4 linked regions of the Homo sapiens genome follow. The protein of the gene in region 2 purifies or fractionates together with the protein of the main gene of each other region. This does not show direct contact. Each region holds a gene or a part of one and is shown on either strand. Other genes may lie near its edges. The genes, in order: DDX3X, BICD2, VPS41 and DYNC1I1.

Region 1 (7,976 bases), on a different chromosome or scaffold from region 2:
CAGCCCTATCTGTGAGGTAAGGCTAGGCTTTAAGTTCTGCATCACCTGAGAGAGTGATTGCTTAAAATGCCCCTACTACCTAAGAGGCAGCTCGGCCTCCTGAGGGCATATGACCCAACCCCCTTCACTATACTTCCAAGACTTCAGTCTTCGGTCACTTTGCATGAACAAAGGCAGAAATGCACTGAGCTTTGCTGTTTGAAAATATTTTTAGCAATTTTAGTGGTAGAAAAGATGCCCTTTGATACAATTTTGTTTTTGATCTTGTCTTCTTTGAGGAAGGAAAGCAGATTCCAGGCCGGATCTGCTGTTTGAGAGTATAATAATTGCCTAAGGCCAGGCGTGGTAGCTCACGCCTGTAATCCCAGCACTTTGGGAGGCCGAGGCGGGCAGATCACCTGAGATCGGGAGTTCGAGACCAGCCTGACCAACACGGAGAAACCCCGTCTCTACTAGAAATAGAAAATTAGCTGGGCGTGGTGGCGCATGCCTGTAATCCCAGCTACTCGGGAGGCTGGGGCAGGAGAATCGCTTGAACCCAGGAGGCGGAGATTGCGGTGAGCCGAGATCGTGCCATGGCACTCCAGCCCCTGGGTGATAGAGCGAGACTCCGTCTCAAAAACAAAAAACAAAAAACAGAGAGAGTAAGTACGGAACTGCATTTACCTCCACACCTATAATTATCCTTCTTATTATAGGGAAGTTCTATGTCTTTGAACTTTATTCCAAATCCACCCTAAAGAAAAGTATGGATCAGCTGGACCCAGGAGGCCCTTCCCCTGGACCTTGCAGAAAAATGACTGACAATCATGAAATTCACTAAAGGCTTTAAGGTACCTATCTCTTGGAATCCCTTTTACAACTCCTTTTCTTCTAGCTTCGGAATAGTCTAATTATCTTTGTCCCAGGTTTTAGGTTACTTGGGCACATTATTTATGTGCATCGCAATAATGTGATTTCAGTCTATCTCTGTCTCCATTCTGCATAGAGAGGTGTGACAAATTTCCTGTCCTCTGTGGGCTCACACACAGCTGCAGTACCACACGGAATTACAGTGGAAGTTTGAACAGTGGAGACTGTGGGAGCCCAGTGCCCAGAGCAACCTACTCTACTAAGGGAGTTGAGAGGATGGGGAGCTAGACACGTGTTATGTGGATCCAGAGCCACTTGGTACTAAGCTCTTACTCCCTGCAAAACACTTAAAAAAAAAAAAAAAGATCTTAAACACTACCTCTCCTCCCCCCCACCCCCGCCTTCTTTTTGAGACGAGTTTCACTCTGTCGCCCAGGCTGGAGTGCAGTGGCGCAATCTCAGCTCACTGCAAACTCCACCTCCTGGACTCAAGCGATTCTCCCACCTCAGCCTCTGGAGTAGCTGGGATTACAGGCGCGCGCCACCAAGCCGTAACTCCTGGAATCAAGTGATCCCGCGTGCCTAGGCCTCCCAAAGTGCTGGGATTACAGGCATTATCCACCACGCCCTGCCTCGCAGAGCACTTTCAATTCATGCACAAGCCCTTGAATCCCAAACACTCTTGGAGGCAGAGACTACTTTTATTCCAACTTTATAGATAAGGAAGCCAGGGCACTGTCAAGGGAGTTGCCTGGTGCCTGTAAGCAGGGAGCTGAACTGGTAGTTAGAGGAATTGCAATTCCCAGGCTCTGGTTCACTGCGCTACCTCCAGGAATGGGGGTGGAAGTGGAGGGAGGGGGCGGTGTTGCAGGAAGTACATTTGCTTCAATATGAACAGTTAAAATGCCTGGAAACATTAAGAAAGGGAGCGTGCAAAAAAAAATTTCCCTGGTTTCAGCCATTTCTTTCTTTTTTTTTTTTGGGGGGGGGCGGAGTCTTGCTCTGTCGCCCAGGCTAATTTTTGTATTTTTTTTAGAGACGGGGTGTCACGGTGTTAGCCAGGATGGTCTCAGTCTCCTGACCTCGTGATCCGCCCGCCTCGGCCTCCCAAAGTGCTGGGATTGCAGGCGTGAGCCACCGCGGCCGGCCTGGTTTCAGCCATTTCTAACCCTTTTTTAGGTCACTTCAAATAAAATTTGCAAATAACTGCCATGTGGAGAAAATATGCAAATGTTGCTAAACGGAAAAGTCATTCGGAGTGCTGTGAAAGTTGGCTCATTTATTTAGCTGCCTCAAGTGTGCACATCATTCTTTTTCAAAGTGAATGTGTTTAAAGACAAAGCTTTGTATGTTTTCCCGCTTCCTCTCCAATTGGATATTCCAATTATAACGTATTGATTAACAAAATACCCTGGTGGTTTGAACCAAGTATGCCTATGAGCAGGGGTTAATTGAAAATAGGGAACTGCTGTATATTTCAATTCTTTTAGGTACTCCCATGGCGGTACCCTGTACTCGGCTCTACTCAAAAGTAAAACAAAGCCCAGAACCAGGGTAGTCAGTGCATCCCATTGTTGCTATATGCAGTTTGAAGAGCTGTCGGAACTCACAGTTTTCGAACCTGACTCATGTTTACCCTGGTTCATAGGAAAACGAAACTGAAACAAAACCGAGGTCCTTCACCAAAACTCCATGAGAATCCACGAATCTCAGGGCAGGAAGGGACCCTAATATCATTAAACCTAGTGGCTCTCCAAGGGGCATTGTAGAAATCTGTGTATTTCTGGTTGTCACAATGACTGGCGAGAGCTACTGGCATTTAGTGGGCAGGAGCCAGGCACGCTAGGATGTTCTATGATGCTGGTCAGTCCCACAGAGCGAATAATTGAATCACTGGACACATGTCGGTGAAAAACTAGTTCATTATCATCTAAGCCTAGAACTAACACTGTTTTACATATGAACACAAAGTATCTTTGCCCAGTTTCCATATATCCTGAATTTTCCACAAATGCAGGTACTGTTTCAATTGAAGGAAGATTGTACTGTTTTATTTAAAAATTATTAATAGTTCATCATTTTGGAAAATGAGGTTCCTAGTAGCAATGCTGCTCATGGAACTTGAGTTGTGAAATCAACACACCTTTCCAGTTTGCATTTGTGGCTCTACTGGGCAAGTGTCTTCCCACCAGTTAGTGTAGCTGTGCGGCGGCATTTACATATTATAATACATTGTTTTATTATAATCATTTTGCTTTCGTTTGTTGACAGATCATGTTTTTTGAAATTGTGTTTGTAGGTTTACATAAACAATTTAGGTTTTGTTATTTCAGTATAGGTAAAGGGGGCGTTAGAAAATACTCGTTATGAAAAGGAGTTGGGTCTTTCACAGGGTTATGGAATGTAGCAGACTCCTTTTATAGATGAGCAAATTGAGACCCAAAGCCGTTAAACAACTTGCCCCCGACAGTGTGATATTCTCTCCCTATCTCGTTCGAATTTCCGTCTCGATTTTAAAAATTGAGAAGGGAGAGAAGTTATGTGTATAGTAAATTATGTGATGAGCACGAACTATTTGAATTCTGGCAGCAGAAGACCTTTTGTGGGGGTGGTGGAAACCACTGCGTTTTATTTAATTTCGTAGGGCTGAGGGTCAGAAGAGAGGGGAAAGCGGTCATAAGAAACTACGGATGTGCGGGCGCCGGCTCAAAGCCGGGAATCCACTAGTAAACACCTTCTTCTATTTAAGGGCCTGCGGCACCGAAGCCGGGACTTGGGGTGGCCTGCCTAGGAGGGAACCACAGGAAGAGGTTCCACCGACGGTAGAAACCCGGTTCCTCCTGTTCCTCATCCACCGCAGCGGCCTGAGAGTCACCCCGAGCCCAGGCCGGTAACCCCGCTGCAGCCCCTCCGGCAGGCCCAGGTTGCACCGGCTACAAACATTCCCGACACCCTTGGGCCCTAGAAGAGCCGTTCGCCACCCGCGGGGTCCCCGCAACGCCGGTGGTCACCGGCCCTAAGCCGCTGGGCGCCCCGCGGGAGGAAACTAGGGGCAAATGTAGCCCGCATTCCTGCGGAGAGCCGGGGTCCCGGGAGGGCGCGCCAGCGGCGGTTCCGGATCAGCGCGTGTCTGTCTCATTGTTCCCTCACCGCGGGGGGCGGGGGCGGAGGCGCGCGCGCACACGTCGGGGGGTTGGCCAGGAGGGGCCATTGTGTGTTTCTAGGCGGCGCCCCCGCTGCCTAGGCAACCGCGCAGGAAGGTGTCCGGCCACCTGCGCGCGCCGCCGGCTCCCCTCCATTTCCCCCCGACTCCCGCCCCGGTCACCATCCTACCCTCCTCCCTCCTCCTTTCCCCTTACTCCGCTCCCCTCTTTTCCCTCCCTCTCCTCCCCTTCCCTCTGTTCTCTCCTCCTCTTCCCCTCCCCTCCCCCGTCCGGAGCACTCTATATTCAAGCCACCGTTTCCTGCTTCACAAAATGGCCACCGCACGCGACACCTACGGTCACGTGGCCTGCCGCCCTCTCAGTTTCGGGAATCTGCCTAGCTCCCACTAAGGGGAGGCTACCCGCGGAAGAGCGAGGGCAGATTAGACCGGAGAAATCCCACCACATCTCCAAGCCCGGGAACTGAGAGAGGAAGAAGAGTGAAGGCCAGTGTTAGGAAAAAAAAAACAAAAACAAAAAAAACGAAAAACGAAAGCTGAGTGCATAGAGTTGGAAAGGGGAGCGAATGCGTAAGGTTGGAAAGGGGGGCGAAGAGGCCTAGGTTAACATTTTCAGGCGTCTTAGCCGGTGGAAAGCGGGAGACGCAAGTTCTCGCGAGATCTCGAGAACTCCGAGGCTGAGACTAGGGTTTTAGCGGAGAGCACGGGAAGTGTAGCTCGAGAGAACTGGGACAGCATTTCGCACCCTAAGCTCCAAGGCAGGACTGCTAGGGGCGACAGGACTAAGTAGGAAATCCCTTGAGCTTAGACCTGAGGGAGCGCGCAGTAGCCGGGCAGAAGTCGCCGCGACAGGGAATTGCGGTGTGAGAGGGAGGGCACACGTTGTACGTGCTGACGTAGCCGGCTTTCCAGCGGGTATATTAGATCCGTGGCCGCGCGGTGCGCTCCAGAGCCGCAGTTCTCCCGTGAGAGGGCCTTCGCGGTGGAACAAACACTCGCTTAGCAGCGGAAGACTCCGAGTTCTCGGTACTCTTCAGGGATGAGTCATGTGGCAGTGGAAAATGCGCTCGGGCTGGACCAGCAGGTGAGCCGCAAGAACCCCACCGGGCTGGCTGCTGCGTGAATTCCTCCCCTGACCTAACCTGGCTAATGGCGCAGCGCTAACCGGCACCCTTACTTTTCATTTTCTGGGTGCCCCGGGCTGGCGGGTGTGAGTGCCCCGGGGCTATAGAGGGATAGGAATGTTGGTTGGGGCTGTCGCCCGGGCCCGGTCTCGGCCCGCTGTATTGTCCCCGGGACGAGCACAATGGCGGCTTTTGTGTGTGCGTGCGCAGGCGGGCGGAGGGGGAGGAAGTGCGCGCGCTCTCGCGGGGACGCGCATGCGCGAATCCCGACTGATTAGTGACCTGGGGGGGTTTGCGGGAGTGCGCAGCGCGGCGGGACGCGACTGGAGGCCCTTTTGGCTTGGAGGGCTTCGGCCTTCACGGCTGGCGCAGCCTGGATTCCCGTCCGGAGGACCTGGCGGCACCCGGTGTTTGCGTGCCTGCGAGCAAGGGGTAGAACGCGGCCCAGGAATGTGGGAGGGGGCGGCCTTCGCTCGGGGTAATGGCGGCGGCCTCTTTTGTGTGGTGCTGGGCGGCGCTGTGGCTCACCTCCGGGAGACGGCGGGTCTCGGGCGGGCGAAGGCCTGGAAAGGAGGATGGAATGGGTTTCTTGTTTTTTCCCGGGTTCCTTCCGCTGGCTTTTTCGCTTCAGCCCAGGTTCCGCAGGGTCCGGGGGCCCTGCGCCGCAGCCGGGGAGGCTGCGTTTCCGGAGTGGAAAGTTTTGTGACGCAGAAGATTGGGGAGGAGTGGGGGAGGGGTGGGGGCGGGGAGGGGAGGCAGGAATTGGCCGCTGCGCGCTGGGCCCTGGAGATAGAGGTTGGACGTGGCGGGGAGGTTAGGGAGCCAGCGAGGCCCTTTCTCCTCCTTGCTTGCCCCAGATTGTCCCTGTGTGGTATGTTAGCCGGGAGTCCCGCGTTGTTTTTCTGGGGTGGAGGGGTCATCGCGGGTTGTGGTAGTGTCTTCGTGTTAGTGACTGTGATCCAGGAATCCGCCATTGGAAAAACACCCGGCTTAGGGGGGAAGTAAACAGTTTTGTTGTTGACTTGTTGCTATCTGTGGAGTAGAATCTTGCAATGGGTCCCAGGCCCCCGGGTTTTTTCTCTTAGCCAGAATCCCCTCTTCTAAGGGTTTAGGGGCAGAGGAGAGAAAGATGTGTGATTTGAGAGGAGAAGGTTATGGACTTTGGTGGCAGGAAGTCTGCATCCCACCGCAACAGTGGCACCAGGCTTCAGATAAGCTCTTGTGTGGGTTATGCGGAGCTTTTAAATAAACTACTGTCTACTGTGATTAGGGGAGCGTTGATTTCACAAACTCCGGAATAATCCTGAGACGAAGTTTAGTGGCACAAATTAATTGAATACATAGTTTAATGTAGTCATATGTAATATTTTTTAGGAATTGATCTGTTCCTTTGGAAGCATTTTCTACCCGTTAATGAACCAATTATATTAAATCCTCTAATTGCTGACACATGTTGAATTGAACAGACACTTTAACAACCTACCAGCAGCACAGAGTATTCCCAGTTTTACCATTTTCCATTTAGCTATAGTGTCCTTTTAAGGATTCTAGGCAACAGTGAACCTTATTTAAAAAGCAAAATTGTGCTATAACAAGTGCAAAAGGAAAGTTTGTGTTCCTACCGTGCTTTAAAGTATTGATGGTAGCAAGAGAAAGCGCAGTGGTGTTTTTGCTCATAGAAATTCTGGAAATTAGGTGCCTGAAGTCTTACACTCATTTTTTAAAAGTATAGCATCTGCTTCCAGTTTTCAGTGACTCCATTGATGATGCATGCGGTTTGGCCGTATCATACTGAGCTTTAAACACAAGATTTATAAACATGGTATGTAGTGCATCTTTTGCAAACAGGTTGGCAGCGGTACTGTGTGACTTGGTCTTTTGTGGCTTTTTTGAGAAAAATGAAACACTTTGCATGTATAGTTTTTTCTCCCAACTACTTGTGAGTAGTTCCTGGTTATAAAACGTTATGAAGGTAGCACATAACCCTTTTCTAGAATGAAGAGGCTTTTGAGCTACCAGTGTAAGGGGATAGGTAGAAATAGAGATGAAAGGCACTAAGATGTCCTACTCTTTAAGAGCATTGAACGCCAGTTGTGCCATTTATTCAAAGTCATCTTTGAACTTATGTTAAAATGGGGTAAAAACAGGTAACTACTTCAGGCCGGGCTCATGCTTGTAATCCCAGTGCTTTGGGAGGCCAAGGCAGGTGGTTCACCTGACCTGAGGTCAGGAGACCAGCCTGGGCAACATGGCGAAACCCCATCTCTACTAAAAGTACAAAAAGTAGCCTAGCGTGGTGGCGCACCCCTGTAATCCCAGCTACTCGGGGAGGTGGAGGTTGCAGTGAGCCGAGATCACATGACTGAATTCCAGCCTGGATGACAGAGGGAGACTCTGTCTCAAAAAAAATAAAAATAAAAACAAACGAAACAGTCAAACTACTTAAGAGTTGTGCTTAACATAGTGTTCTGTAAGTGGTAGGTATATTGCTATTTTTTTGTTGTTCTTAAGAGTACTACCCGACTAAAAATACTTGGGCAATATTTAGGGATGAAGTATCTAACTAAAAGAACGGCCACTTCGAAATTTGTCCTGACATTTTTCAGGTGTGCATTTTAGGTTTAAAATATCAAGTATTACGGAAAGTTGGCATTGGAAACTTTCATAACCGGCACTAAAACGAATCCTTTATCTATTTGACATTGAGGAATAATTTTGAGATTCAGTGTAAGCTTTAGTTTGGTGATTAGGGAGCCTGTGCTATGGAACATGTTAGTGAAAATTTATTTTGAATGCATGAATTAAATTTGGACAGTTTCTACTGAACAGCACAAGCA
Region 2 (7,802 bases):
GCTCAAGAAATCACTAGCAGAATGATTAGGCAAAATCAACCAGGGGGCACCCACCTCACTTGTGGTCTCAGCCAGCACCGTGCTATGTTGTCAGCAGGACACAGACACTTCCCCCATCCCATGAGAAAGGCAACAGGACTGGCACTGTCTCCCATTCATCACCACAAGACCCTCCTCAGCTCTGATCAGAAACCCACACACTGGGACCAGCAGGCCAGCGTCCTTCCCTCAACGATCCTATTATCTACAAATGCAGGGCAGAAGTACAAGCAACTCCATTTGGAGCACAATTTATTAGTAACTAAATGCACTTTAGTTCAAGAAATAAAGTTTTCTAAAGAATTAAGGCGGTACACCGCTCTACAGGAGAAAAAAAACCCCACAATTATTGACTCCTTAAATCTTGTGGTTTTTTTTAAATGAAGAGTTAATATTTTCAACTATAATACTGGCCATAATTAAATAGGTTAGCAAGAGCCTGTGTTGGCATGGGTGTGAGGAACACGCATGCTGTTGATGGGGGGTGAACTGGTACAAACTTTCTGGCAACATCTACTGAAACTGAAACGCTGATGCACATTCCTCTAGACTCTGCTAGAGACCGAGCAGAAACATTCTTATCCCACCTTACAAAGGAGAACTAGATTCAGAACAGAGCAGTAATTTGTCCAAGGCCATGTGGCCAGTACATGGAAGCCAGGTGGTGACAAAAAACAAGCAAGCAGACGCCTAAAGAGTACCCACAGAAACAGGTATACCCTCTTCCTGATTCTGCTAGGGACTCACCCTCCAGATACATGCCACGAAAATGCCAAGATTCTTCACTGTGCCAAAACGTTTGTGTCAGAATAGCAAAGACCTGACAAATGAAGGGCACCAAAGCGGGGACAAGTTAAGTCAGCGACAATTCCTTCTCACAGAGGACACTGCCAAACCCAAGCTGTGGACAGAGACAGGGACTGTAGAGGCTGCCCAGGAGCGGCTCACGATGCACTTGGTAGGAGGAAGAGGGCTGCTTCACTGTGTGCAGAGGGAAAAGCGCCCTAACAGATAGTGCTGCCTGCTGGAGAGGGTGAGCCCCGCTACAGGAGACCAGAAACTGGCCGAGTCCACTCCCACTCCATATTCTCAGAGCCCCCTGCCTCCCTATCACACGCCCCACCCTAAGATGGGGACTCTTGCAAGAGCAGCTGCATCTCACCCCTCTTGTAGCTCCAGCGCCACTGGAGCATGCATTGCAGAAGGTGCCAATACCTGCTGACAGACAACAGAATCGAGTCCTGAGGGCGATGGGGGAGGACCCAGCTCCTGCTGGCCCAGGGTCAGCCATTGACTGGTACTAACTGAGCACCTGCTCTGCCCAGACATCCAAGCATCTGCTTGGATTCATTCTCTGCTCTCCACAGACGGGTCTCCTCAGACACGGGGGAGGCAAGGAAGGCTGCAAATGATTTAGGCACCTGTCTGGGCTGACTGGGAGCAGAGGTGCCAGGTGATAAGCCTGGAAACCAAGAGCCAAGGGCTCACCAGGACACACTCAAGTGGGGGAAGGGAGCACACCACCAAGCTATACTCCTGACCGCACACCAGTCCTTTCCAAATACATGACCCTCACAACAATCCTTTCTGGGCACGCAGTACTGCACTCCCATTTTGCAGAGGGGGAAACTAAGACTCACGGAGGGCCTCTACCCAAAGCCACATCACTAGCAAGGGGCACAGCCTGGATCCAAACCCTGGTGTATCCTCCCAGAAAGCAATTCCTGCAAACAACGCTATGGAGTCAGGGAACGGGAGAAGAGAAGCTGGGGAAGGACTGTCCAAGACTCCCGCTGCCCTGCCGCCTGGAGACCCTCGACCAGCCTGGTGGTCTAACCTACTCTCCCCCCAGTGGGAATGACACAGACCACTGAGGTCTCCGTCCAAGAGGAACACAGCAAGCCACAGCGAGGGGAAGGGCCCGAGAAGCGGGGCTGGACAGGAAGTGGGCCAGGGAAGTCATGCTAGCTGGTGGGAGCGCAATCCCGGCCATGAGGACACAGCGCTGGGCCTGGGGCAAGGGTACTGGGGGACCCATGCCAGGGGCAACCTCCACGTGCAACCCCGAGCCCCTACTCACTTAGGCCGCTGTCCACGACCTTTCCCCACCTCGGAGGCACTCATGAAAGAAGCAGAAACGCTCCGAAAGTAGCTGCGCCCAGAGAGGGGAAGTGCTTTCTCTGAAGGTGACAGAGCCGCAGCCACCCAGACCCAGGCCCACCCTCGGCCTCTCCCAGCGGGTCACCAGCATCCGTGGCCTCAGCTCCCGGCTCAGCCACTGCCCTCCCAACCCCACCCCACACTCAGACACACCCGGAACAGCGACCACCGCAAAGCATCAGCCCTTACGAAGCCCCGCCCCGCCGGGGCCGCCCAGGTCCGCACAGAAGCAGGCGGGCAGCTGCAGGAGGCGACAAGGCGCCCGGACCCCTGCATTAGCGGCGTCTGCAACGGCCGCGGCACCGGCCTGCTAGCCAAGGCCGGGCCCACTCCCACATACTGCCCGTGCCCCCTCCGCCCCGGCGGCCCACCCCTGCCGGCCCCCGCTTGGCAAGCTGACCTTGGCCGCCCTGGTGCCAGGGACGACGCCCACAGGCCCCGGCGCCGGGCGGGGGTCGCAGGGCAGGGCGGCTCGGCTCACCTCCTTGAGCTGCTCCATCTCGCTGCGGATAGCCTCATAGTCCACCTCGAGCTCCTCGAACTGCAGCTTGAGCTGGTGCTTCTCCTCGAGCACCGCCAGCCCGTACTCGGCCGCCTGGATCTTCTCACGCGTGGTCTCGGCCAGCTCGTGGGACAGCCGCTTCACCTCGGCGCGCAGCCACTCCGGCTGCGCCTCCATCACCAGCCGCGCGTACTCCTCCTCCTCCGACGGCGCCGACATGGTGGCCGAGGGCTGAGCCGGCTCCCACTGAGGCTCTCGCAGGCCGGGCCCTCCTCAGCCGCCGCCGCTGCCGCCGCCGCCGCCGCCCTGCCCCGACGGCCGCCCGCCCGCCCGCGCCGCCGCACGGCTCCTCCCCTCCGGCGCGCGGGGCCCGCTGGGGGCTGGAGTCCTGCCTGCGCTCCGACCACAAGGTCCATCATGCCCGGCGCCCGCCCGGCCCCCGGCTATGATTGGCCCATGCTCTGTGAGGGGCGGGCCCTCGGGCGCAGCCACTGACGCCAATGTGGCCCAGGGGGCTGTGGGGACAGTAGTCCCGCTAGCGCACCGACTACAAAACCCGTCCAGCCCCGCGCCCACCCGTCCCCGTCCGTGATTGGCCTGCGCCGCCAGCGTCGAGCCGGATGTACCGGCGCCTTGCAGTCCCCTGGACGGCGGTCGAGTGGGCGCGGCCCCGCGGCCTTCCCCACACTCAGAGCCGGGGACACTGCTCGGTCGCCGGGCCTCGCGCTCCCCTGTGCCTCTGGCAGCCGGCGGCCACGCGGGGTGGCAAGACGGCTGCCGGGAGAACCCCCAGGGGGAGGCGGGTGCGGGGCGGCAGGACTGGGCTCCCGACCGTGGGACGAACAACGCGGACAGAGCCCGGGAGGCCACGAGCTAGAAGCGCATCCGAGAGCGCGGGTGAACGGCTGCTGCTGGAAACCCGTGGACGGTGTGACGCATGCTCTGTGCAGACGTCTGGGGGCGGGAGGAGGACGGGCCAGCAGGGGGCGCCCAGGGGCCAGCGGGAACCTCAGCACCGCCCCTCAGTCCTTCAAGGTCTATTTCTTGGGAATAAAGACATTTCCATTAATACAGGGTCATAAACGTGGTAAATATAATTGTTGTCTCCGCATCTATTTTTAGGCCTGACTTAAGTTGTTTGAAAGCCAGTCGTACCCTTCGCCTTGGCGTAGGTAACACTTCTCCGTATATGGTGGTGTGTGAGATAACTCGTTTATTCTTTATCTCATTGACCTAAAGCGCAACACACCCCACAGCCGCTGACCGCCATAGCACCTAATGGCCAGTATCAGTGCAGATGAGTTCACCCTTCCCTCGTATTTTCTTTAGCCAGTCCACAGGCCCCAAGGGAAATCCTAAAGGATGATTTCCATGGACCCTAGCACAGCCATAGTCCCTTCCTTCCCACCGTCTCTCACTGCCCCTCTCCATCTGCTTGTCCGCCTCTCTTAGGCATCCCTAACCTCTCCGGAACCTAAGAATAATAAATTCCTTCTGTTTTGTACCTTTTAATTTTACTTTCTCATTGTATCTCACCTGAACCCCACACCCATTCGGTTCTCCTAGAGAGTGGCTATCTTGGCTTATGGTCACTCTCCCTCAAGACCAAATTAGAAAGAAGCCATGACAGCAGAAATCACAGCACACAGGGTACTGACACTATCTAATGCACAGTCCACACTCTAATTGCACGAGGGCCCAACACCATACTGGAGAGTTTCAGTATTGTTTTTGTGGTCCAGGATCCAGTTGCATTCAGTCGTCAGGTTTCCTGAGTCTCCTTTGATTGACCTTTCTGAGGAGTGCAGTGCACACTGGTATATGCTCATGGGGTGATGAGGTGATGCGTTTCTGGCAGGACTGTCACTGAGGTGTTGCTGAGTTTTCAGAGCACCAGCCGGGAGGTATGTGATGTCGATTTGCATTTCTCTGATTGATGCTGGGTTTTTCTTTGGTAATTAGTGTCATGAGTGAAGACTTTGCAACCATAGATATAGCCTATGACTCCTCAAACCTTGACCCACTGGTTTTGGCATTCATGACTACTTCTTGCCTGAAATAATTATTACCATACTGTCTGCTTTTTTTTTTTTTTTTTTTTTTTTTTTTTTGAGACAGAGTCTCGCTCTGTCCCCAGGCTGGAGGGCAGAGATGCAATTTCGGCTCACTGCAACCTCTGCTTCCCGGGTTCAAGTGATTCTGCCTCAGCCTCCCGAGTAGCTGGGACTACAGGCGCATGCCACCATGCCCAGCTAATTTTTTTTTTTTTTTTTTTTTTTTTAGTAGAGAGTGGGTTTCACCATGTTGGCCAGGATGGTCTCGATCTCTTGACCTCGTGATCTGCCTGCCTCGGCCTCCCAAAGTGTTAAGATTACAGGCGTGAGCGACCGCGACCAGCCATACTGGCTGCTTTTCTATTTCCATTAGTCCTTCTCCATTTATGAGTTGCCTTTGTACTGTGAGGCACCTATACCTTCTCATCTATTCCCTTCTCTCTCATTCATTAGCAGTATGGATCCATGGATTCTTATTTTACTCCGTGGGTTACAATCCATTACTTTCCTTACTTGCTTTGATGCTCAAATGGTAGCAGATTTGGCCCGTGGGAGCTCCTCCAAGCTGGCTCCATGTCTTCAAAACATCGTAATTTGTTATTATTGTTATTACTTCCTTGATGTCTGATGCAAATTGTTCCAAGATCATCTTGTGCTCTCCATGTCCCAGACCTGAAATCAGTCATTTCCCCAAGGAGCCCTGATTCTTTTTAGTGTTTTGTTTGTCTGAGGAGAATGTGTCATAGATTGGCTTGTGAAATTAACTAATTTTAAGGAGTTCAGTTGTAGTAGGAATAGGAAGACCAACCTTCCTGGCTTACCTGGGACTGTCTTGGGCTGGGCAAATTGTTAACTGTAAGTGGGAGAGCTCCCAGTGTAAAGAAGGAACAAGACTTGTTTGAGTGTGTACTTAGCAAGGGAGGGACTGATGCCCCACAGTGACTTGCCCAAGGTCACACAGCCTCAGGGCAACACCTGCACCTGATCCAGGCTGATCTGACTCGAACCTCCCCACCCCCCGCCATACCTTGCTGTGGGGCAGGTCTGAGGAGGGAGGGAGAAAGACCATGGGAGTCCCACGCAGGGACTGACCATGGCGCTTTGAACTTGGAAACAGGTGGTGGTGGAAGGGAGGCCAGGGAAGGTTTCAGGAACATTCTGTTACAGGTAGGGACTCTCCTAGGTGCTGGGGGCAGAGGGTCTGTCACTACCCTTGTGGTCTTCCTTCTGGCAGGAGGGACAGCTCTGGGTGCGAGTGGCAATGTGTGATGGGGTGGGGTGGATCGGGAAAGGCTTCCCTGAGAAGACACCTGAGGGAGACCCAGAGGATGCACAGGAACTGGCCAGCCCAAGGCTGCAGGAATAGGGGGCTTGCAAAGATAAGAGAAGCAGGGTGATCCTGGCAGCAGATAATGAGCCACCTCTTACTGAGCTCTGCATGTGTTCCCAACATTGCCAGGTACGTGACATACATCTTCTCATTCAATCTTCACAATACCCTGAGGGGTAGAAATGATGCCACCTTCTTCTCCTCAAGTCTCTCTGTCTCTGGCCAGACTCTTCTCCAAAGTTACACCATCAAGCTGTCACTCTGAAGTCAAGCCGCTTCTCTCCAACATCCAGCCATAGTCCCCGACATCCAGCTGCTTCTCCTGTCTGCTGGCTGAGCCTGGGGTCCTTATAGGCAAAGGATGGGGCAGGGCGGGGCCATGGGTAGTTTAGGAAACAGCGACATTTGAGTGGGAAACAGGGATATAAGTTCTTATTTTGGGCTGCGGTTTCAGGCCTTTCAGCTTGACGGTGAGGCTTCACCAGGGACCCGCCCTTTTCTACCTGGAATTTCTCTGCCCCAGTCCCTATCACCTGGACCATTACCGTCACCCTCTCACTGCCTCCTTGCCTCCTCCTTCCCCTAGGCTTCTCTCACAGCAGGGCAGCCAAGAGTTTCCTTAGACCCAAGTCAGGTCCCATTCCCACTCTGCTCAAAACCCAACCAAAGTCAAAGCCCCATCATCACAGCTACCTCCAAGGCCCTGCACGCTCAAGTGTGGCCCTTCCTCAACCTCTTCCTTCCCCTCTCCTCTTGTGTAGCTCTTGTAAACCAAAAAGTATCTGAGACAAATCTTAATCAACTCAGAAAGTTTATTTTGCCAAGGTTAAGGATGCATCCATGACACAGCCTTAGGAGATCCTAATGACATGTGCCCAAGGTGGTCAAGGTACAGCTTGCTTTTATACATTTTTGGGAGACATAATGTCAGAGACATTTGAACCAGAGCAACTCCATCTCAAATAGGGGCTGAGTAAAATAAGGCTGAGACCTACTGGGCAGCATTCCCAGGAAGTTAGGCATTCTAACTCACAGGATGAGATAGGAGGTTGGCACAAGATAAAGGTCACAAAGACCGTGCTGATAAAACAGGTTGCAGTAAAGAAGCCAGACAAGGCTGGGCACGGTGGCTCACGCCTTTAATCCGAGCACTTTGGGAGGCTGAGGCGGGCAGATGACCTGAGGTCAGGAATGCGAGACCAACCTGGCCACCATGGTGAAACCCCGTCTCTACTAAAAAAATACAAAAATTAGCCGGGAGTGGTGGCGGGTGCCTGTAATCCCAGCTACTCGGGAGGCTGAGGCAGGAGAATTGCTTGAACCCGAGAGGCAGAGTTTGCAGTGAGCCAAGATCACGCCACCACACTCCAGCCTGGGTGACAGAACGAGACTCTGCCTCAAAAAAAAAAAAGAAGGCAGACAAAACCCACCAAAACCAAGATGGCAATAAAAGTGACCTCTAGTCATTCTCACTGCTCATAATGTGCTAGTTATAATGCATTAGCATGCTAAGACACTCACACCAGCGCCGTGACAGTTTACAAATGCCATGCCAATGTCAGGAAGTTACCCTATATGGTCTAACAAGGGGATGAACCCTCAGTTCTGCAAAGTGCCTACCACTTCCCCAGAAAACTCATGAATAATCCACCCTTCTTTAGCATATCATCAAGAAATGACTATAAGTATCCTTAGTCAAGCAGCCCATGATGCTGCT
Region 3 (7,018 bases), on a different chromosome or scaffold from region 2:
TTCCCAAGAGGTGTTACCCATAATGAAAAAAACTAAGACCCCACTCTAATTAGCAGATTTTTTAGAGATTACTTGTGGCTGTAAAAGGTAATGTAGTCACTGATTTAAAAAAGGCATGAGATTTAGTCAGAGGATCTGTGATCTGTGTTCAAACCCAGTTCATCACCTTCCCAGACTGGCAAATCACTTAACTTTTCTGAGAGACAACCTTCTCATCTGTAAAACAAAGATGATATTTCCTACAGAAGTGTTGTGAAGATTAAATGTTTGTCAAATAAAACCGTCAAAAGAAGTCTTTAAGAACAAAGATGCTGAAATTCTCAAGGGAAAAAAGCCTCCAACTACAAAAATGGACATAAACGCTCAACAACTACATGCTAAATTTATAATGTTTTAAAAATAGAAAATGTAAAAACATTAGAAATTTGTAGCATAAACTGGAAACTGGTCAGTTTACATAAAAACTGAAGTATAATTGATACCATATTGTTTTGGAAGTTATATCAAAATAAGTGCTATTTGTCCTTGAAATCAGGCCTAGGAACATTTAAAGCTTATGAAGTGCAATACATGCCACTTGCATCTTACTGACTTCATGAAGCTTTTAAAATTTGTGCAGTGATTACACTAACAAGGTAGCCGGGTATAAAAACATAGAAAGTTAAAGAAATTAAACACTGCTGATGTAGTTGATTATACTACTTCCTTAAACTATGTCATGTCATAGGCATCTAACAAACCTAATGATGCTAACCTTCGGTTGAAGAGAGCTGTTACATTTTAGAAAACGTGAAACTAAAAGCAGAAGAGTTACTCATTTCAAGTTTTTCCCACAACATTCTCTAACCCGCTTTTCCAATTAACAACTGGCTAATGAATGATCTCCCAAAGCAGTGCCCAAGTTTTAAATGCTGTATACTCTATTGTCAATCTCCCTTTAGAGATTCCCAATGCATACCAGCAAGAAAAGGTGCTGAGAAGCCCTGTGAGAACATTTCCCCAACATCTGACCATAGATCCCTACATTACTGAATGGTTCTTGATAGCCCCTGGGGTTACTGTCCCACCCAGCCCCATCACACACACAGTCACTTCCAGATTCCTGGAAATTGATGAACATGCAAAATTTCTCCCAAATTTTCAGATTGAATAGGGTTGCTAATTTTTTACTTTGCTAGGTGAGAGTATGTGAAAAACAACATAGTTTTATAAAATACAAAATAAAAAAAGAATAAAATAAAAACATGCAAGTGAAATCCTTCTGGAAATTGCAAAATGCTCTCTGGATAGATTTATTTTTACAGTGAACCCTAATAGGTTGCCTAGAGAAAGGAAACACATTAAGCGGTCATTAATACATTATGTAAAAAGAGCAGAAAAATATTTTAAACTCTTTATCTGTGAGGGAAAAATAATGCCTGGAATTCTTTGAACCACCTGCCCCCGGAGAGCATTTTCTGACTGCATTCTCCAACAAGATGCCTGAGCTCCAGTGGGGACTCCAGATGCAGCAGCTTCCACAGGCTCTGCTGCCTTCCCTGTTCATCTCTCCCTCACCCTCTGAGAAGCCACCCCTTGGTTGGGGGATTCACAGGCAACCACAGCTTTTTGGACCCACTAGCTAAATAATTCTGAACCTCCTTAACACATTACCGAACTACATACTTACATATCTTAAGGAAAAGCTCTAATTAAGAAAAAATATTTAGTAGCTTCTTTAGTAGATATTTTTATGTTAGGCATTCATTTTGCATCTAATAATAATTTCATTTTTATTACCAGCTGACTCAGAATGATGCAAATTTATTTATTAAAAATGAATGAACACTGAGATCACAGTGGTGCCCATGAGCTTGGTTCTCTGGAAGAATGACCTAGTCATAGGGATGCACTATGTGGTCTTGCAGTCATTGCGGAGGCTGGCGAAAAAGAAAGGCACAACTTTTAACCTAGTGCAAGCTTCTTGCACTACAGCTGAAAGGCAGAGGGATAATTATTTACTACTTCCCTTGGGGGAGGGTTGTTCAGAGACACCTAAATGACTTCTCATCAAATGTGGATTTGAAACCTAGAGCATATCCTGGCATGCCTGGGGTTGGTAAGGGTCAATGAAGTAAAGGTCATTATCAAGCTCACTCACACTCAGAGGCTTATAAGTTCTGATACTGAAAACACTTTCACCAAAGCCCAATCTGACCTTCAAAATTAGTGACTTCCCCAGGCAGGGACGTCACCTTTCTGGATTCCTAGGGCGTGGCATGAAAAGCCAGCTCCTCACCTCACCTCTCTTTGCCTATTAACCCATTCCCATATTTTTATTTCCTTCTTGACTTTCTCATTCTCCTTCCAATAACCTTTCTCCTGGGTCATCTGCAAACCTCCAAATCCCACTGGAAATATATGCCTATATATCGTTAAGCTTTTTGCGGAACAGGTAATCTACTTCTTTGGCTTAACGAATACCAATTTCTCTCCCATGAACCCAATTTCCCACAAAGCTCTCCGGAGTGAAGGCTGCATGATCTCTCACACCCCCACCCCCATCTTTAGACTTCTTCACTTTTAAAGTCGTGTTGTCCAGTTAATACTACTGTCCCCTGTGGAGAAGCTGGAGCCTGGCTTAGAGCACCTTGTTTCTTCCTCCTGGCCTTCATGTCCATTAGGATGACTCAGAAAGGCTGTGGCCTCAGTTTCTCTACTAATTCTACACAAATGACCTTTACCATCATCCCACTTTTTGAACACGTATACACCATGACTCCGCTTCAGAAACATTAATGACATCACACTCTCTGGCACAACCTCTTGTCCCTGCAGCTCTGCCATCCCTTTCATCTCTTACATCTGTTTTTGATGCCACCAATGTTCCTGCAATATCTTCTCCTTTCCACCCTGCCTCTTACCTAAGGCTGTCACCCTGAGTGCAGGCAGACCTCTACTTTGCAACCTGCATGGTGAATCCTGGCCCAATGGATCTCACATCATAATGCTCCTCAGCTAATAGCCTTTTCTTTTGGCTTTACCTGCAAAAATTGTTTCTAGGAAAGTAATTTCATCCATTATTAATAAAACCTCATTTTCAAGTAAATTAGAGGAAGAACAACAGTCCGAATTTTTAAGGAAATGTTTTAATTCAAGTTCTATAGAAGTTACCAGCATCCTGAAAAATAGTAATTGCTAGAGTCTTTTTAAGGAAAAGATTAAGATGCTTTGTAATTAGTATAATAATTTATATGAAAATAATGAGTTCCACTGTTCTTATGACAAATTCTGATTTAACAAGGATAATAAAGTTGCACTATTCTAGAAAACAGACAAAAGGTTAAATAAAATCCTATATTTTAACAGCTTTCAGGCAACAGACTACTGAATGGCTTCAAGAAAAATTATTACCTTACTGAAAAACATTTTTGTTAATTCCCTCAAACGGATACAATACTTATTCTCCCTAAAAATGTTGGGGTGGCCCGATCTAATGGCCACTATAACTGCTTTCATACTCGCCTCGATTCCATGTTATATTAACCATACAAATGTAAGAATGTCTGCTCAAAAACAAGTGAAAATTGGAGATGGCTAAAGAATCAAATAGCCTTCTTAAGGCCTTTAAGGTATTACTGGACAACGCAATTTTAAAGGTGATGTTTCTAATTACTCTATTTGAACAGTTTTCTAAATATCTGGGCCTAAATAAAATGTAACCATAAAATCGAAAGTTTTTAACTGATACCTAACATAAACCCTAGAAATATTTATCCAGTACTAAGTCAACTAATTCAGATGCTCATTTGTCCAAGAAAGGATACTTACTTGCAAATTGTAGTCTTGCAGAATTTTAACCAAGGAATCTCTCAAATTGGGGATCTCCATTCCTTCCTTAATACGGTGAATCAGTAGAATTGGGTCAACATGTGTGCCAATGTTGTTTAACAAGCCAGTAATAAATGCTACAAAATACCACATAAAACAATGAACATATAAGCAACATTATAATGCAATTTTATTTGCACATAATTTGCATATAATGCAATTTTAGATCAAAAGTAACTCAAAGAAAAAATTATTTCCTTCAAAGTAAGTGTTAAAACCATTTGAATTTCTAAACTCTTAAGAATTAATCTTCTAAACTTCCAAGAACTAACGCTCCTTAAGACATGAAGGAGAAAGTAAATAAGAACTGTTTTAAAACAGTTGAACAAATGATTACTTGCCTTCAAAATACAGTTTTTAGCATCAAATGGGTGTAAATAATATTTATTGACAACTGACTATGGCTCAGGTATCATATACACTTTCCTCAAATACTGTGCAAGGTAGGAATGCTGTGTCCCCATTTTACAGACAAGGGAAATGGGGTGTTTAATTTTTCCAGGGTCACACGGCTAATAAGTAATGTGCCCAAATTCACTCAGGCCAGCCTCAAGTTTATGATATGTTCTGCCACATCACTTTGCCTCTTGAGATCCTTAAACTACTACTTTATCTTGCTAGTTACAAGTGAGATTCTTTATATTGTCAAGAGGATAGTTATTAAAGTCAATTTCAGATTAAGGTAGTTACATGAACACAAAGACTTCCTACCAAACTTAAAAAAAAAAAAAAGGAAAGAGGAAATTTCAAATCACTACTGCTAGTTATTTTCAAAAGAGTTGGGTTTCTGTTAGGTGACTGCTTTTGTTTTTTCCTTTCCAAAATGGGAGACCCAATGCAAACAGTCAAGCTGAGGACCAACAAATACAAACTCTGGGTGTTGTACTGATAAAAATAGTGCAGGAAAGAGGCTAAATACTACAACACAAACATCCAAATATCATCAATGTCCAGAACAGTTACATGTTTCCAAAAAAGACTGGTAAGGTCTATACACTTAAACTATAAACACTCCCATATACAAGCTAAAAACAAAAAAAAACCACACCAACACAACCCAGATGACATTTATTCAATTTGCTTGCAGCAGGTAAAAATATGCCTCATGGGGACACAATTAATAAACTGTGTAGCCACCTGTTCTTCATCACATGCAGGTAATGCAAAGTGATGAGGCTCCAGGTTTTCCAGCACAGGAGGAGTATTGGAAATCATTACAACACACCTGGCCTATTTTTATTGTAGGTACGCTACCATTTTCTTAACCCAATGTATCTTGAAATAGTTTTTAATCTAGACATAACTGGTTACACTGAGAGAAAAAAAAGTTATAACCAGAGATGGCTTTTATGCTTACGTGGTTTGTCAATGGAATATAAAATCAAATCTTCCCACAGCTCTCCATCATCTTGCTCCTTGGCAAATTCGATTGCTTTATCAACATCATGTAATTCCTCCATAATCATCTTCAGGGCACTTCGGCTATTACCCATTCGGCCTTGGTGGGGTGAAGATGGGAGAAAGAGTTCATTTAAGGTATTTTAATAATTTTTTTAAAGAAATTGCATATCTCTTAATTTGTTTACATAGGTGGAAAGCTAAGACAAGGCTATTTTCTCATGTGACACCAACATTTACTGTCTATAACATAGCAAAATAAGTATCTCCTATTTACTGGATATTTACTCTGTACTGAGTACTCATTTAAGTGCCTCATATAAATGACATCATATAACCATCACTACAACCCTATGAGGCATGTTCTACTAATATTCCTCTTTTATAGAAGAGGAAATAGAAATGTTAGTAGCTTGCTAAGATCATACAGCTACTAAATAGTACACTGTGAATTTGAAGCCAGGTCTGTCATACTCTGACTTACTTTTGATAGACTTATATATATTCTGGAGGTCAATACCTTCACATGCAGATACACTTAAAATGTTTAAAGGCCCTAAAGTCATTCTGCCTCATGAGGTAGCTGTGCATACTGCTTTTCTGATACACTTTGTGCCAACTGCAAACTCAACTATCAGAGGGCTTCCTCATTTTCTTCTCTCCCACGTTCAGGGGAAGGCCTTTCAATAACCCTCATGAGATGAAAGTATTTATCAACCATGCCTTCTATTGGCTAATTGTCTTTACATACTTTGCTCACTGACCTATGGCATTTTAATAGTTTAAAGTTTTCCATGAGTTTTTAATATAGTGCATGTAAGAAAGCCTTACTCAGTGGAGGGACAACAACTGCCTGGTTGTAGGTTGTCACCCTTACCCCTGTCTCTGGGCTTGCAGGAACTAGTAAAGGATCTTGAATCCTTCCCCCTGCACACGGCCATTATCAACTGATAAAAGCTGGCTTGTGAATGAAATGATATCCCATTTGATACCCCTTCCACAGCATTTTGTGTTTCTTACAAATATTATTTCCACAGTTTATGTCTCTAAAAATGGTTAGTTATTTAAAAATGTTTACAGGATTATCAAGTTTTTATAAAATCAGACTATATGTCCCTAATAAGTCCTCTACTGCTTCTAAGACAATATGACAAAAATTTATTCCACCAAAATATTTCTTGGGGAGAACACTGTTTGGAATTAGTGAATTGATGAGCTACCTAAAATTGTGATTAGAACCCCAGGAACATGCTGAAGTAACAAAATGCAGCCCCAAAAGCACTTCTCCTAAGAAGGGCAGGTGCTATAACTGGACAGTTCTGGGTTTGTGGCTGAGCACCCATGAATCTGCATACACATAAAAGGGAATAGAGGATTTGGATTATTTTTCAACAGAGGCAAAGAGGCCAATGAGAGTGAGTGCTGTATAAGGGAAAGGCGTAAAGCGGAAAAACCCTACTGAGGTCAGCAGGGAAGTGACAATGGAGAAACACCAAATATGAATGTTATGTTATATGCTACATTATGCAATCCTCAGTACAACCCACATTGTTGTCATGCACGTGGCTCATTTTGGAAGAATGTGAAAAGATGACAAGTTTTGTTTCTTGGTATGCATGGTACAAAAATTGTGACTCATGTGGAGGTAGGAGCCAGAAGACCAGGAACACTGACACCTAGATTATATTAAAAAGCTCTCCTCCTTCTCCAAAACTATGGTATTCAATTGCATTTCCTCTAGTTATTTAGG
Region 4 (7,661 bases), on a different chromosome or scaffold from region 2:
TATCAACATTAACAGGAGTTTGGAAGAAGTTAATTCCAACCCTGTTATGGTTTGTTTATTTGTCCCCTCTAAATCTCATGTTAAATTGTAATCTCCAATGTTGGAGGTAGGGCCGGGTGGGAGGTGTTTGGATCATGAGGGCAGATCTTTTATGAATGGCTTGGTGCCCTCCCCATGGTAATGAGTGAGTTCTCACTCTGAATTCACAGGAGATCTGGTTGTTTAAAAGACTGTGGCACTTTCCTTCTCTCTCTTGCTCCCACTCTATTCATGTGATGCATCAGCTCCCCCTTTGCTTTCTGCCATAATTGTAAGGTTGTTGAGGCCCTCACCAGAAGCAGATGCCAGTACCATGCTTCTTGTACAGCCTGCAGAACCATGAGCCACAGTAAACTTCTTTTCTTTATAAATTACCCAGCCTCTGGGGTTCCTTTATATCAATGCAAATGGACTAATACAAACCCTCATGGATGACTTTGAGGGGCTCAAAACTTAAGTGAAGGAAATCACTGAAGATGTAATAAAAATAGCAGGAGAACTAGAATTAGAAGTAGAGTCTGAAGATGTGACTGAATTGCTGCAATCTCATAATAAAACTTCAATGAATGAGAAGTTGCTTCTTATGGAAGAGCAAAGAAAGTGATATACTGAGATGGGAACTACTGCTGGTGAAAATGCTATGAACATTGTTGAAATGATGACAAAGGATTTCGAATATTACATAAACGTATTTGATAAAGCAGTGGCAGGGTTTGACATAGTTCACTTCAGTTTTGAAGGTTCTGTGGATAAAGGGCTACCAAACACACACTGCATGCCTGTATCAAAATGTCTCCTGTACCTCATAAATACTAAATACCTTCTATGTGCCCATAAATTTGTTTAAATGCTATCAAAGAGCATGACATGCTACAGAGAAATCTTTCATGAAAAGAAGAATCAATGGATGAGGCAAACATCATTGTTGTCTTATTTTAAGACATTACCACAGCTACCCCACCTTCAGCAACAACCACCCTGATCAGTCAACAGCCATCAACATTGAGGCAAGACTCTCCACCAGCAAAAAGATTACAACTCACTGATGGCTCAAATGATTATTAGCATTTGTTAGCAATAAAGTATTTTTAAATTAAGACATGTATATGTTTTAGACATAATGCTATTGCACACTTAATAGGCCACAGTATAGTGTAAACATAACTATTATATACACTAGGAAACAAAAAAATGTGTATGACTCACTTTTATTGTGATATTTGGTGATGTGAAACTGAGCTCACAATATCTCCGTAGTATGCCTGCATTTTCTTTTTCTACAATTTTGACTACTTTAGATACTTCATATGAGTGGAATCATACACTATTTTACTTTTTGTAACTGACTTATTTCACTTACGACAGTGTCCTTCAAGTTCATCCACACTGTAGCATGTGACAGGATTTTCTTCCTTTTTAAATATAAAATTTTACTGTATGCATATATATTCCAAATTTTCTTTACTTATTCATCTGTTCATGAACATTTGGGTTGCTTCCACCTCTTGGCTATTGTGAATAATGTTGCATTGAACATGAATGTGCAAATATCTCTCTGAAATCCTACTTTGAATTATTTTGGTTAAATACTGAGAAGTGATAATATTATAACTAACTTTGAAATTGAGGGCTTAATTTGCTGTGGGCATACATTACAGGCTATTTGTCATGAATACAACTTGGCAAACTCAGGCCTTTTAAATCCTGACCTGGATTCTTTGAATGAACTTTAAACTTGTCTCTTAAGCTTTTGCTTGTTCAATCCTCTACCCGAAGATAGCCCCAGATGACTCTTCCCAAGTGTCATTCTCTACTCAAAGGCCTTTAATGATTCTCCATTATCTGCTCTACAGCCCTTCTCAAGGCCCCAGTTGGCTCTCCCATGAGTCTGTCATGATCCAAAAAGCTGGCCCACTCACTATTTGCTGAGTACACTTTGTTCTTTCTCTTCTTTGGAGCTTTGTTTACGCCTGAAAATGTTCTCTGCTCTTCATTTCTGCTCTAAAACCCTACCTATTTCAATACTATCTATTGTCATAATTCTAATTTCCTCCTTCCATCTCATCCACCCAAACCATTGTACTGCTTTGGGTATTTCCTTATTGTTTGTCCTTAATTATGTTGCCTTTACCTATCCTTGCACCTCCAACTGGATTTTAACCCCTTCAAGAAGAGGGATTATATTCTCTTTTTTAAATCATGTGAAGCTCCAAGCACAATGCTTTGCAGGTTGTGTGCGATGCAGTACAGGGGAGCCCCCAAATTAATTGGAGCTTAGCTCGCAAAGGTTCTTGGCTTTGCCCAGGAAAGAATTTAAGGGTGAGCCAGTGGTAGGGTTGAAAAGTACAGCTTTGTTGAAGTGGCAGTGTTACAGCTCTGATGGTGTTACAGCTCTGTGACTGTTCCTGCAGAGCAAGGCTACCCCACAGGCAGAAAGTAACAGCTCAGGGTAGTTTTGCAGTCATATTTGTACCTACTTTAATTACTTGTAGATCAAGGGGTAGTTTATGCAGAATTTTTAGGGAAAGGGTAGTAACTTCTGGGTCATGGGGTCATTGCCATGGAAGGGAGTGGTAACTCCTGGGTTTTGCCACGGCAGTGGTAAATTGACATGGCACACTGGTGAGCATCTCTTATGGAAAGCTGCCTCCGCCCCATCCCTGTTTTAGCTAGTCTTCAATTTGGTCCAGTGTCTAAGTCCCAGCTCCTACTTCGTGGGCACTCAACAATGCCATGTTGAGGCCAGGCATGGTGGCTCACACCTGTAATCCCAGCACTTTGGGAGGCTGAGGCAGGCAGATCACTTGAGGTCAGGAGTTCGAGACCAGCCTGGCCAACATGGAGAAATGCCATCTCTACTAAAAATACAAAAATTAGCCGGGCTAGGTGGTGTGCACCTGTAATCTTAGCTACTCAGGAAGCTGAGGAAGGAGAATCGCTTGAACCCAGGAGATGGAGGTTTCAGTGAGCCGAGATTGTGCCACTGCATTCCAGCCTGGGCATCAGAGGGAGACTCTGTCTCAAAAAACAAACAAACAAACAAACAAAACAACAACAACAACAAAAGCAATGCCATGTTGGAAAGACCAAAATACAAAGTAGTTAAAGTACAAGCTGCAGATGAATGGGAATTCAAATCTCAGCTAGATCACTCAGTGGTTATGGAACTTGGGCAAGGGAGTTAACTTCTTTGACTCAAGTTCCTTTTCTGGAGGCATGGCATTCGTTATATGTACTACATAATGTTATAGAAAAGTTAAAGAAAAATGTATGTAGAATTGACATGTATTAAATATTCAGTCACGGTAGTGGCAAATATTTATTTCCTAGATTTTTCCTTCTGGAATACCTTGAATACCTTCTACCTAGACATTTAACCTCTTCATTTCTAGCCATAGTTACAATCGCAGTAGATTAGCCAGGGAGGCCAAAGTTTTAGAATAAGGATGGCCATTTACAGATGAGTATGTATTCATACTGTATTCATACTAGAATCTGTATTTATTTTGAAATTACTGTAGTACTTGTGAATTAATAAGTTCATAAATATTTACTGAGTACCCATTATATATCAGAATGCTGTTCTAGATACTAAGAATACAGCAGTGAACAAGATAGCGTCCCTGCCCTCCACTAATTTACATTCTAATGTGTAAAAATACACCACAGATGTGCAAGAAATATGATGAAAAGCTCATCTATAAAATGATACCAAACCCCCTAACATCCCAAACTCAATTTTTTGGCCTTATAACTTAGCTGTTGTGGCAAGCTTGTTTTTTGCAGAGTCCAATAATAGTTACCCAGATTTTTTTTTGTTTCCCCGAGACGGAGTTTCGCTCTTGTTGCCCAGGCTTTGAGTGCAGTGGCGGGATCTCGGTTCACCACAACCTCCGCCTCCCGGGTTCAACCATTCTCCTGCCTTAGCCTCCCGAGTAGCTGGGATTACTGGCATGCACCACCACGCCCGGCTAATTTTGTATTTTTAGTAGAGACGGGGTTTTTTCATGTTGGTCAGGCTGGTCCCCCAACTCTCGACCTCAGGTGATCCGCCCTCCTCGGCCTCCCAAAGTGCTTGGATTACAGGCGTGAGCCACCGCGTCTGGCCAGTTACCCAGATTTTTAAAAGCTGGGACTTTAAGAAGCAATGTGAAGACAAGCTACACACACACCACACCACACACACACACACACACACACACACACACACAGACACACACACTTAATTCTTTTTTCTTCTAGAAAAATTGGGATCAATCAGACCTATAAGTCATTGTGTACAACAGGTAGATCTGAGCTTTATTTCTATTTAAATGACCTTAAGAAGTGTAGTTGCCTGGGAGTGAAAGTTGTTCAATGGTGGCATTTCAGCAGGAGCTCCCAGAATATTGAAGCTCTTCTCTTTGCAGCAACTGAGGTCTAAGTCCTACCGACGTTAGAGGGATAGACGAATTGACCTTTCCAGGTCCTCTGCTCGCCACCAGCCTACGGAGCGGCGCCACCCCCTCCTGGCGAGACCGGGCGCGGAAGACGCGGAGCGGAGGCCCTCCCTCAGGAGGGGCGCGGGCGTGGAGGGCGTGGGCAGGGGGCGGGGCGAGCCCCGCAGACTGAGTGCTCCGGGGAGCTGTCAGTGTCAGGCTCTGGGAGAGAGGAAGTGATCGCTCCCGGAGGAGCGCGAGCCGAGCGGCCGGCGCAGCGTGAGACAGCACATCCTGCCCGCGCCGGCCCCGCCACCTTCGGGAGCCGCCTGCACCAACGCTGCCGCCGCCCAGGAGCCGCCGCCGGCTCGGGGAGCCCAGTTCCGCCGCTGCCGAGCGCGTCCAGGTAAACTGGAGCGGGATGTCGCCGCTCCCCGGACGGCCGCCTCCGCACCTCTCCCCAACCCTCCCCACCCCGGTGTCGTCTGCGCTGGGAACCAGGCTGGAGCCGAGGCCCCTGCAGCCGCAGCCGGACCCTTGTCCTGGCCCCCTGCCCAGGCTCCTGCGTGCTCCGCTGAGCCCGAAGGCGGCCAAAGCCCCCCAGTGACACCCCCCTCTCGGCAGAGCCGAGAGACTAGGGCAGAGAAGGAAGGGTCGTGGTGTCACCACCTGGTCGCCCACCTTGTGGGCTGGGAAGGGCGTCCCAGTGCGCCCCGCCTCGGTCTTCCCCGGGGGAGCAGTGGGCGAGCGGCGCTGAAATCTGCACCCCTCTGGGCCACCGGCTGACTGCCCCTGGAGGAGGGGGAAAGCTGCAGAGGGAGGGGAAAGGATGCTGTTTGATTACATTTCGAGCTGTCTGCAAAGCTCTTAGATGCTGTCACTACCCTGCAAGTCGGAGGGAGCGAATTCACTTCCAGCAGGGCATTAATTAAACACTTCAAAGCGAGAAGATGCCAGTTTCTCTCTGCTGCGAAAAAGTGTGGCTGGGGGATGTTGTTTTGGTAAACACCTTCACGGCCGCCTGGCTCTCCTTCCCCCGCTCCCATTCGGAATCGCTCTGGCCTTATAAATCCGTGCGTCGTCATCATAAGGGCAGTGATCCTGGCAGCGCTGATGGGAACTGAGTGTGCGGGAGTCTCATGACTTGTACCTTGGCTAATAAGATTAAACAGAAGCCCAGGATCAGGACAGGAAATTACATAGGAGATCAGAGACTCAACAACATGCAGAAGATGGAATATATTCGCTATTCTGGCCTCTACTAATCCTAGGTAAGGGGCAGGAACAAGTAGCCAGCCATTTTCTTGCTTGGAATGCCTTTCAAGTGGGCATTGTAGACTTATTGTAGTTCAGAGTTGTGAAGAATTGCTTCCAAATATTCCAGATTAGCAAAAAGTATAGCTAACAGTAAGGCATAGGCAACTGCAGGTGACAACCCAACGCCTGATGTTAACACAGACATGGGTAACCAGTCTGTGTACATACTTTAATTGTGGAAATTATAGAGATATACGTTGATCAGTGTTAGTAAATTTGAAAAGGGAATATTCAGTGCAATTTGCAAGCTGAGGGTACTGGTGAGAATGTAATACTACCTCTAATTATTTAAAATGCCAAGTTTGTTCAAAAAGGTTTGGTGTGGAAAAAGGGGTCCTAACTCAGCTCTTTTGATCATATTTCTCAATAAAATAAAATCTGAAACACCTGCCACTGAGTTACCACATGTTCTCTTCATAAGAACTAACTCTCGAATATTTGTTTAGGTCTGAGGATCCAGTGCTCCAAGACCCATTCCTCTTAAAACCTCTAGCACCATCCTTGGGAAGTTTTTAGAATACAGTTGGGGGTCGAATGCAGGCTTTTCCAGCCTGTCAAGCTCTTAGCCCTGTTTCTGGCCCACAGCATCTCAGCATTTTACTTTGTCTTCCTTGTCTCAGGCCTCAGATACAAATGCACTTGCTTCCTCCTTCTTTGGACCTCTGAGATGCTGCAGCCGCTGGTGCACAGTCCCCTGGAGGAGGAGGGGCTGGCTTGCAGTCCTTCCCCACCCCCAGCCTTTCCTCCCTCTTTGCTATTGAAAACATGCATGATTGTTTTACTGTTAAAGCTTTAGGTAAATCACCAGTAGGGATATGAGCAGAGAAAATAAACTCGACCCGCAGGAAAAGGGGCAGAGTTCTTAAAGTAGTGGTCCATGGTCTTCAGTTTCTGACTAACTTCGAAGAGAGTAAGAAGTCACTTGGCATTTCAGTCACCATGTTTTATATCTCAGAGAAGGCTCTAGGGTCTTTCTTCCCAATCCCTCTGCTTCCAAAAATACTCCTTCCCGAGTCTACGTTTAATAAATGAGCCTTGCCTTTGATGACAGTGCTGAGTCAAGGATCCAGCCTGGGTGCTGCTCTGTCCATAAAAACAGCGATGTAGACCAGTCTTGTAAAATGCATGCCAAATCTGAAATCTAGGTACCCCTCTTAGTACAGACAGTGTGCACCGGCTTCATCCTGTTACCGTTTTCTCCAGTTTCTTTGTTGTTTAACGTAGCATCAAATGAAAAGGTCACATGCATCTGTTTCAAAATCTGTTTCAAACAAATATATTCCTTCATTACTTTATTCTCCCTACACTTGAAACAAAGATTGATAACAGTAGCTAAAATATATTGAGCACTTTACCAGGCATTGCATTTTAAAATACTTTCACAGGTGTTAACTTATTTAAACATCACAAAAATCTTATGAGGCAGATATTGTTTGTAATCCTGTTTTACAGATGAGGAAACTAAGACACAAAGGTGTCAAGTAACTTTTGCTCAGCTACTAAGTTGAGCAAGGCAGCATTTGAATCAAGGCCTGACTCCAGGCCAGGAGTTTTAACCTCTCTCTTCCGTACTATGAAACAATTACACTGGTTAATTTTCATATATTGAATACCAAGCTCTTCTCTTATCTCATTTTAATTCTTATATTAATCCTATGAAGTAGACATTATTATCCATATTTTCCAAATAATTAAATGAGTTAAATGACATACTCAACATCATTTAATAAATGGCAGAGGTAGGATTCAAATGAGATCTCTCCAAAGACTCTAAAACTAGGACCCATCCATTTTGGCTATTGTGCTGTGTGAGAGACAAAAAAGCGAGTGTATGTCTGTATCTTTCAGGTTTGCTCTCCAATTTCAGTGTGATCCATTGTTATTTTC

What was found.
Region 1: the proteins of BICD2 (region 2) and DDX3X purify together in Homo sapiens (affinity purification with mass spectrometry; 2 studies listed by BioGRID, with this or other methods). This does not show direct contact.
Region 3: the proteins of BICD2 (region 2) and VPS41 purify together in Homo sapiens (affinity purification with western blotting; 2 studies listed by BioGRID and IntAct, with this or other methods). This does not show direct contact.
Region 4: the proteins of BICD2 (region 2) and DYNC1I1 purify together in Homo sapiens (affinity purification with western blotting; 4 studies listed by BioGRID and IntAct, with this or other methods). This does not show direct contact.

What each region holds. Positions count from the first base shown.
Region 1 is NC_000023.11:41,329,199-41,337,174, forward strand, and holds the start of DDX3X (ATP-dependent RNA helicase DDX3X), read left to right. Parts: upstream 1-4,963; 5' UTR 4,964-5,054; coding exon 5,055-5,099; intron 5,100-7,976. UniProt on the Homo sapiens protein: Multifunctional ATP-dependent RNA helicase. The ATPase activity can be stimulated by various ribo-and deoxynucleic acids indicative for a relaxed substrate specificity.
Region 2 is NC_000009.12:92,761,825-92,769,626, forward strand, and holds the start of BICD2 (protein bicaudal D homolog 2), read right to left. Parts: upstream 3,010-7,802; 5' UTR 2,921-3,009; coding exon 2,681-2,920; coding exon of another isoform or gene 2,600-2,680; intron 1-2,599. UniProt on the Homo sapiens protein: Acts as an adapter protein linking the dynein motor complex to various cargos and converts dynein from a non-processive to a highly processive motor in the presence of dynactin.
Region 3 is NC_000007.14:38,738,175-38,745,192, forward strand, and holds part of VPS41 (vacuolar protein sorting-associated protein 41 homolog), read right to left. Parts: intron 5,369-7,018; coding exon 5,228-5,368; intron 3,948-5,227; coding exon 3,811-3,947; intron 1-3,810. UniProt on the Homo sapiens protein: Plays a role in vesicle-mediated protein trafficking to lysosomal compartments including the endocytic membrane transport and autophagic pathways. Acts as a component of the HOPS endosomal tethering complex.
Region 4 is NC_000007.14:95,767,911-95,775,571, forward strand, and holds the start of DYNC1I1 (cytoplasmic dynein 1 intermediate chain 1), read left to right. Parts: upstream 1-4,643; 5' UTR 4,644-4,863; intron 4,864-7,661. UniProt on the Homo sapiens protein: Acts as one of several non-catalytic accessory components of the cytoplasmic dynein 1 complex that are thought to be involved in linking dynein to cargos and to adapter proteins that regulate dynein function.